2 linked regions of the Homo sapiens genome follow. The protein of the gene in region 1 interacts with the protein of each later gene in a biochemical or structural test. Each region holds a gene or a part of one and is shown on either strand. Other genes may lie near its edges.

Region 1 (3,438 bases):
CCACACCTAAGTGCAGTCTTGCTGTGCCACTTACAAGCTATAGGGTCTCGGACAAGTCTCTTTCCTTCTCTATTCTTGTTTGCTCATTTGTAAGAAGAAAGGGGAGGCCAGGCACCAGGCCATGGCTCCCGCCTGTAATCCCAGCACTCTGGGAGGCCGAGGTGGGTGGATCACGAGGTCAGGAGTTCAAGACCAGCCTGGCCAAGATGGTGAAACACCGTCTCTACTAAAAATACAAAAAATTAGCCAGACCCGGTGGCAGGTGCCTGTAATCCCAGCTACTCGGGAGGCTGAGGCAGAGAATTGCTTGAACCTGGGAGTCAAGATCAAGCCACTGCACTCCAGGCTGGGCAACAGAGCGGAAAAAAAAAGAATAAGAAAGGGGATAGGCAGAAGTAATAGAAATTTCATAGGGCTGTTATGAAAATTAAGTGAGCAAAATTTGTTGTTTAGCCAGCACTTACAAAATCGCTAAGGAACTGTATTTTTTTTTTTTTTTTTTTTTTGAGACGGAGCTTCGCTCTTGTTGCCCAGGCTGGAGTGCAATGGTGTGATCTCAGCTCAGCGCAACCTCCGCCTCCCAGGTTCAAGCGATTCTCATGCCTCAGCCTCCTGAGTAGCTGGGATTACAGGCATGCACCACCATGCCTGGCTAATTTTGTATTTTTAGTAGAGACGGGGTTTCTCCATGTTGGTCAGGCTGGTCTCGAACTCCCGACCTCAGGTGATCCGCCCGCCTCGGCCTCCCAAAGTGCTGGGATTACAGGCGTGAGCCACCGTGCCCGGCCCAGGAACTGTATTTAAAGTACACACACACACACACACACACACACACAGAGACAGAGAGAGAGAGAGAGAGAAACTGAGCTAATTCGAGGCAGTTAATAGTGAATGGTTGAAGGTGACTGTTATTATAAAGGTTGTATCACATTTCTGTGTGATCCAAAGACTGCCTACATCAGAATCGCCTGAGATTCTGGGAATCACTGAGCCCCTCCCTGCCTTCCTCCCTGGACTACCCAATCATAATGTCAGAGTTCCCCAAATAATTCTTATGTGCACTAAACCTCTCAGAGCTCTTGGTGAATGACTTTCAGTGATTGGTGTGCAAACTACAGTAGATAGATAAGTTTGAAAGCACATCTTAGCCCATGCTGCGCCAAAGCTCTTTCTTTCTCTTGGCAGGTGACATGAAATGGCAGAAGCTAAATCCCACTGGGGCTGCTCCAGCAGGCTGTGCTGCCCACTCAGCTGTGGCCATGGGAAAACATGTGTACATCTTTGGTGGAATGACTCCTGCAGGAGCACTGGACACAATGTACCAGTATCACACAGGTGAGCAGGTGTCCATGGGGGATCTTTAAACAAATCTAAACATTCTTTGAAACGTGATGCGGTGGCTCACGCCTGTAATCCCAGCACTTTGGGAGGCCGAGGCAGGCAGATCACGAGGTCAGGAGATCGAGACCATCCTGACCAACATGGTGAAACCCCATCTCTACTAAAATACAAAAAATTAGCCAGGCGTGGTGGCGGGCGCCTGTAGTCCCAGCTACTCGGGAGGCTGAGGCAGGGGAATTGCTTGAACCCAGGAGGCAGAGAGGTTGCAGTGAGCTGAGATCACACCACTGCACTCCAGCCTGGTGACAGAGCGAGACTCTGTCTCAAAAAAAAAAAAAAAAGAAAGAAAGAAAAAAGTGATGCAGTGCTTCCAATTTGGTTCCTCTATATCTAAATCCAAAAGAATGAAAACTCTGTAGGGGATGACATCAGGAAAGCAGCAATGCTGCCATAAGGTTTTTTTCCTTTTACTCCTGTTTGTTAGGACTCGGCTGCTACAGTAAATCACTGAGCATTTCTAGAAATTTCATTACTTTTTAAATTTTATTCAGATTTTGGCTTTCACTATCTGGAAATTGTTTTTTTTTTTTTTTTTTTTTTTGTCTGAGATGGAGTCTCACTCTGTCGCCCAGGCTGTAGTGCGGTGACGTGATCTTGGCTCACTGCAAGTTCCACCTCCTGGGTTCACGCCATTCTCCTGCCTCAGCCTCCCGAGTAGCTGGGACTACAGGTGCCCGCCACCATGCCCAGCTAATTTTTTTTTTGTATTTTTGGTAGAGACGGGGTTTCACCGTGTTAGCCAGGATGGTCTCCATCTCCTGACCTCGTGATCCACCCGCTTCGGCCTCCCAAAGTGCTGGGATTACAGGCGTGAGCCACCGTGCCCGGCCTATCTGGAAATTTCTTAACATGAAGCCTTTTCCCTCCCCAACATAGAAGAGCAGCATTGGACCTTGCTTAAATTTGATACTCTTCTACCCCCTGGACGATTGGACCATTCCATGTGTATCATTCCATGGCCAGTGACGTGTGCTTCTGAGAAAGAAGATTCCAACTCTCTCACTCTGAACCATGAAGCTGAGAAAGAGGATTCAGCTGACAAAGTAATGAGCCACAGTGGTGACTCACATGAGGAAAGCCAGACTGCTACACTGCTCTGTTTGGTGTTTGGTGGGATGAATACAGAAGGGGAAATCTATGACGATTGTATTGTGACTGTAGTGGACTAATAAAACCCACATTTTTATTACCTGTCAGTTACTTTCAGAATAGTTAAGTAAAACATTAGCTGTTTTATACCTCCAAAATATCTTCTGCATTATATATCTGTTTTTCTCCTACTTTGGTAGGTGAAGAAACTAATGCAAATAATTCTTATGTGCACTAAACCTTGCTATATTGCCTCTCAGAGCTCTTGGGAATGACTTTCAGTGACTGGTTTGCAAACTGTGGTAGATAGATAAGTTTTGCCCAATGCAAAAACCTCCACTGCATTAACATAAAAGGCTTTGGGCCAGGCTTGGTGGCTCACGCCTGTAATCCCAACACTTTGGGAGGCTGAGGAGGTGGATCACCTGAGGTCGGGAGTTCAAAACCAGCCTTACTACCATGAAGAAACTCCGTCTCTACTAAAAACACAAAATTAGCCGGGTGTGCTGGCCCATGCCTGTAATCCCAGATACTCAGGAGGCTGAGACAGGAGAATCGCTTGAACCCGGGAGGCGGAGGTTGCGGTGAGCTGAGATCACACCATTGCACTCCAGCCTGGGTGACAAGAACGAAACTCTGTCTCAAAAAAAAAAAAAATATATATATATATACATATATACACACATATATATGTATACATATATAGTATATTTATATGTATACATATATATGTATACATATTTATATATACATGTATTTATATATGTATACATAAACACATATATATGTATACATATATATATATATAAAAGGTTTTGCCAACAATACAAACCTAGGTAGGTGTGATTTGTGTATTAAATGCTAATCACAAAGTTGCAATATGGTTAGGGTTAAAAAAGAAGTTGCAGAATTATAATTGGTAAACAACAAACTATAGACATCAGACAC
Region 2 (5,195 bases), on another chromosome or scaffold:
GAATTGAATTTTAGTTCCGGGTGATGGTGCATTCAGAATGACTGAAGCAGAGACTGTGAGGGGAAGGTGGCTAGAGTGAGGCTGGCCAAGAGCAGGGGCCAGGTGTCTTGCCTTAGAAGTTGGACTTAGTCCTGGATCTCTGGGAAACAACCCGCTGAAGAATTCTGAGGAGACATTAGATAGATGGTTCCCCTATGTCAAAATAGTTGGTTTGCTTTTATGGTTTTCAATCTTTTCTTTTTAAGTTGTTGAAGCAAGATGCCAAAGAATTAAAGCAGCCAATTTAGCACATTGTTACCTATGTCAGGAAAGTAAGGGGCTTGGGACTGTTGCAGTTTCCTCTTTAACATTAATAGTCTGGATATTGAGCAATACATTTGAAATTGAAAAAGTCTCTCAAAAGGTATGCACCTTAACTGCCACACACTTGTGTTGGACAGTTTAAATTGTATTAATATTAATTATAGTAGTAATTACTGTAGTATTAATTTGTTTTGTTTTTTGAGATGGAGTCTTGCTTTGTCACCTAGGCTGGAGTGCAGTGGTGCAATCTCAGCTCACGGCAACCTACGCCTCCCAGGTTCAAGGGATTCTCCTGCCTCAGCCTAGTACCTGGGACTACAGGCGCTTGCCACCACGTCCAGCTAATTTTTTTTTTTTTTTTGTATTTTTAGTAGAGACGGGGTTTCACCATGTTGGCCAGGCTGGTCTCGAACTCCTGACCTCAAGTGACCTGCCCGCCTCAGCCTCCCCAAGTGCTGGGATTACAGGTGTGAGCCATCGTGCCTGGCCTGTAGTAGTAATTTGAAAGAACCAGTAAGAGGTAGGGACTAAGGTATGTCCCATCATTTTTTAATAGTATTTCCCATTCACTTGATTTCTCACTATACAAGCCACTACAAGGTTTTTATCAGAACAGTGGAGCATGTGGCTAGAAGTGCAGAATTCCTACATGTTACAGTAAGTGTTCAGTTACACTATAGTTGCTCACATTGCATATAACCAGGAGACAGCCAGATAATGTTTACTGCAGTGATTTTACAAATTCATCCTGGTCAATATAACAATTATTGTTCATGTCTTTATTGCCTTCCCATGGAGGGATTCATAATACCTACTTTCCTATTAAGGTTATTGACCAAATTTGCTCTAGATCTGTGCTCTCCAATTGGCTCATTAAATGTGGCTATTTATTTAAAATTGAATAAAATTTAAAATGCGGTTTTTCACTTCCATCAGCCTCATGTCAAGTGTTCCACAGTCACATGCGGCTAAGTGGCTGCTATATTGGACATTTCCATTGTTGCATAAAATTCTCTTGTACAGTGCTGCTCTAATAGTTATCTTCTTATATACATTTTAGTATACTTAAAAACCATTTAATACTAAAGTACAGATTAAATGATATAATCTGATTCGAAATAACTGGGGAGAAGGGAGAGTTGGAGGGGTTATGGAGGAAACAAGATTTGCCATAAGTTGATAATTGTGAAGCTGGGTTTAGAGTTCATGGGAGCTCATTGTATTGTACTCATTATATAGAAATTTTGTACATGTTTTACATTTTTCACAATAAAAATGTAAGCAGAAGGATTAACCAGGAACTGTGCTCCCACCAGCACCTAGAAGTAGCTGTCTGTCAACGGGCATCTGAAATCTCACCCCCCACAGGCTGGCTCTTGTAGTGTAGTAAAGTTTTTAATCCTGCCACAGGACTTCTAAAGAACACATATAGTACCACATTTTCATTTAAGGTTTATTTCATTCTACCTGAAAACACACAAGTAGCAGCAGTCTCATGTTCCTTAAGTGTTTGAACTGCCCAAGTGAATCTTGTGGATAGAATGTGCTAGATTATATTAAAAATTCCATTGCTGCTGACATTAATTTGAACAAATTCAAAATAATGTTCTTAATGAAGAGAATAAAGTCCATTTACTCAGTGGTTGGTTCATACTTTATTTCACAGCCAGGTAAGTCAGTTTCTGTCTCTGGCTTTCCTGGTTAACAGCACCTGTGTCTGAAGAGAGGTGGAGGGAGTAGTAGAGAAAGTCCCTGGTAGGAGAGAGGCCTTAAGTGAACACCATCACTGTGCACTGAAGGGCTGTTTGAAGTTGTTAAGAGAAACATGTGGGCTGGGCATGGTGTCTCACGCCTGTAGTCCCAGCACTTTGGGAGGCCAAGACAGGTGGATTGCTTGGGCCCAGGAGTTTGAAGCCAGCCTGGGCAACGTGGTTGAGACCCTGTCTCTACAAAAAAATAGAAAAATTAGCAAGGCATGGTGGTGTGCACCTGTGATTTCAGCTACTTGGGAGGCTGAGGTGGGAGGATTGCTTGAGCCTGGGAGTTCAAGGCTGCAGTAAGCCAAGATGGTCCCATGCACTCCAACCTGGGTGACAGCGAGATCCTGTCTCAAAAAAAAAAACAAAACCAAAACAACAACAACAACAACATGCGAACTTTGGTCTCCTACCCATCTCTAACAAATGGTGGGGCTTACTATGAGCAGAGAGGGGCTTATCATAGAGTAACGGTTCAGAGCAAGGGCTTTGGGGTCAGACTTGGGCTTGAGTGCCAGCTTCACAGTCAACTGTGACCTGAGAAAAGGGAAGAGTGAGCCCTTCCCAGCTGTTTCAGAGAATAATGGTAGAATAGTAGCCTGCACATGGCTAAGTGCTCAGTAAACAACAAGTCTTATTATTAGGTATTCCCTGGGGCCATATGTTTTATTTCAGCTAAATGCTGATATTCGTAGAATCATGTAGAAGAATGTGTAGGTATAAAGGAATGTAATGGTGCCTTTTTATTTTACAGGGTTCTTGAAGCTTTTGAGATTAACAATGGCAGGAAAATCATCACTTTTTAAAGTAATTCTCCTTGGAGATGGTGGAGTTGGGAAGAGTTCACTTATGAACAGATATGTAACTAATAAGTTTGATACCCAGCTCTTCCATACAATAGGTGTGGAATTTTTAAATAAAGATTTGGAAGTGGATGGACATTTTGTTACCATGCAGATTTGGGACACGGCAGGTCAGGAGCGATTCCGAAGCCTGAGGACACCATTTTACAGAGGTTCTGACTGCTGCCTGCTTACTTTTAGTGTCGATGATTCACAAAGCTTCCAGAACTTAAGTAACTGGAAGAAAGAATTCATATATTATGCAGATGTGAAAGAGCCTGAGAGCTTTCCTTTTGTGATTCTGGGTAACAAGATTGACATAAGCGAACGGCAGGTGTCTACAGAAGAAGCCCAAGCTTGGTGCAGGGACAACGGCGACTATCCTTATTTTGAAACAAGTGCAAAAGATGCCACAAATGTGGCAGCAGCCTTTGAGGAAGCGGTTCGAAGAGTTCTTGCTACCGAGGATAGGTCAGATCATTTGATTCAGACAGACACAGTCAATCTTCACCGAAAGCCCAAGCCTAGCTCATCTTGCTGTTGATTGTTAGATTGTTGATGCATTCTAACCAACTCACACATATACACAAAATCAACATGGGGATGGAGAAGAGAATTAGCGTTTGCAGCAGTGTATCATCTACTAATAAAATTAAACTAATGTTGCTGCTTCATTAGTTGGTGGGAGAAGGGACACATCCACTCTTGGAGGAATATATTTACTCAATAATGGCACCTTACATTTATAAATTGTAACAGTTGTCTAATAACGTTTCTTTAATTTAAATATGTAAGTTGCAGAGCTAATAAATGAAATGACCAAGACTTTAATTATAATAAAAATAAGAAACTTGACTATTCTAGAAGTTATACTTGGATTTTTTCCTGGGAAAATGGAGAACTACTTTTTATATGTGTATGTTTTTATGCAATTAGCATTGTATTCTTGGTTCAGGGAAATACTTTCCTAAAGCAATAATGTTAGATATTAAAGATTAAAATCTAATGTATTTGCAATGCATTGTTAATTTACTTCTTCATTCTCTTCAAAATGATTTAACCATTCCTGTTTTCATTCTACATACTAGAATTACTCTCACTAGTAATTACTCATCATTTGTGTGCCATTCATGCACCCCCACCCCCATAAATCATGTTCCACAGTCTCAGGCGGAGGGTGGGCCCCCAGTGGTACAAGAGTTGCTTCATACAGTCTGTAATACATCCAGCTAAATTCAAGTTGTCTATGAATGGAAAGCCTTTCCATAGATAGAGTTCAGTTTTAAGAAAAAGGCTAACTACTGAACTTGGAGAACAGACAAATGTGCATTTGATAACTGATGTAATAATTACAATGTACTGTGTGGAAGATACAAAATTACAATTCGATTAATGGACTAAATATTTTTGTTACTTTCTTGACCCTTGGGGAAAGTTTCTTAATTGAAGTTAAAACATTCCTTTATAACACAAGACACAAGCTGACTTTATCACTCTCAGAAGAAATACTAAGAAGGATTGTACTTTGTGAGAGGGTAAACGAAGACATCTTTATTCGGCAATGTATTTACTTAGTGTCTTCTCTATTACTGAACATTTAGTGATTTGCTCTCAAGGAGATTTTTTGTTAGAAAAAGACTTGTTGCAGTGATCAGACTTGATAAAGCAAATTGTGGTCTTTTGTGGATGAAGTTCATATGCTGTGTGGTTGGTGACTATCTGATTCTATGGAGGCTAACCAAAGCCTAGACTGAGTGTGGATGAGACCCTCAACTGGGGAGTGATGGGGATATCAAAGGACATGCTGGGTGAGAGGAGCTGACTGTCATGTAGGGAGTGAACCACTGCCCCCAGCAGAGATACAGTTCGGTTTTAAGAAAAAAGGCAAGGCCAGGCGCGGTGGCTCACGCCTGCAATCCCAACACTTTTGGAGGTCAAGAGGTCGACACCATCCTTGACAACATGGTGAACCCGGTCTCTACTAAAAATACAAAAATTAGTTGGGCATCGTGCCTGTAGTCCCAGCTTCTCGGAAGGCTGACGCAGGAGAATCACTTGAACCCGGAAGGTGGAGGTTGCAGTGAGCCGAGATCACATCACTGCACTCCAGCCTGGTGACAGTGAGACTCCACCTCAAAAAAAAAAAAAAAAAAAAAAAAAGCAAACTACTGAACTGGAGAACAGACAAACCTGCATTTGTTAACTGATGTAACAATTACAATGTGCTGTGTGGAAGATACAAAATTACAATTCATTAATGGACTAAATGTTTTTATTTTTCACCCTTGGGGAA

The links.
Region 2: the proteins of RABEPK (region 1) and RAB9A form a complex in vitro, tested with the Homo sapiens proteins (one study listed by BioGRID).

The regions. Positions count from the first base shown.
Region 1 is NC_000009.12:125,231,411-125,234,848, forward strand, and holds the end of RABEPK (rab9 effector protein with kelch motifs), read left to right. Parts: intron 1-1,185; coding exon 1,186-1,335; intron 1,336-2,277; coding exon 2,278-2,570; 3' UTR 2,571-2,751; downstream 2,752-3,438. UniProt on the Homo sapiens protein: Rab9 effector required for endosome to trans-Golgi network (TGN) transport.
Region 2 is NC_000023.11:13,705,907-13,711,101, forward strand, and holds the end of RAB9A (ras-related protein Rab-9A), read left to right. Parts: intron 1-2,814; 5' UTR 2,815-2,840; coding exon 2,841-3,446; 3' UTR 3,447-4,598; downstream 4,599-5,195. UniProt on the Homo sapiens protein: The small GTPases Rab are key regulators of intracellular membrane trafficking, from the formation of transport vesicles to their fusion with membranes.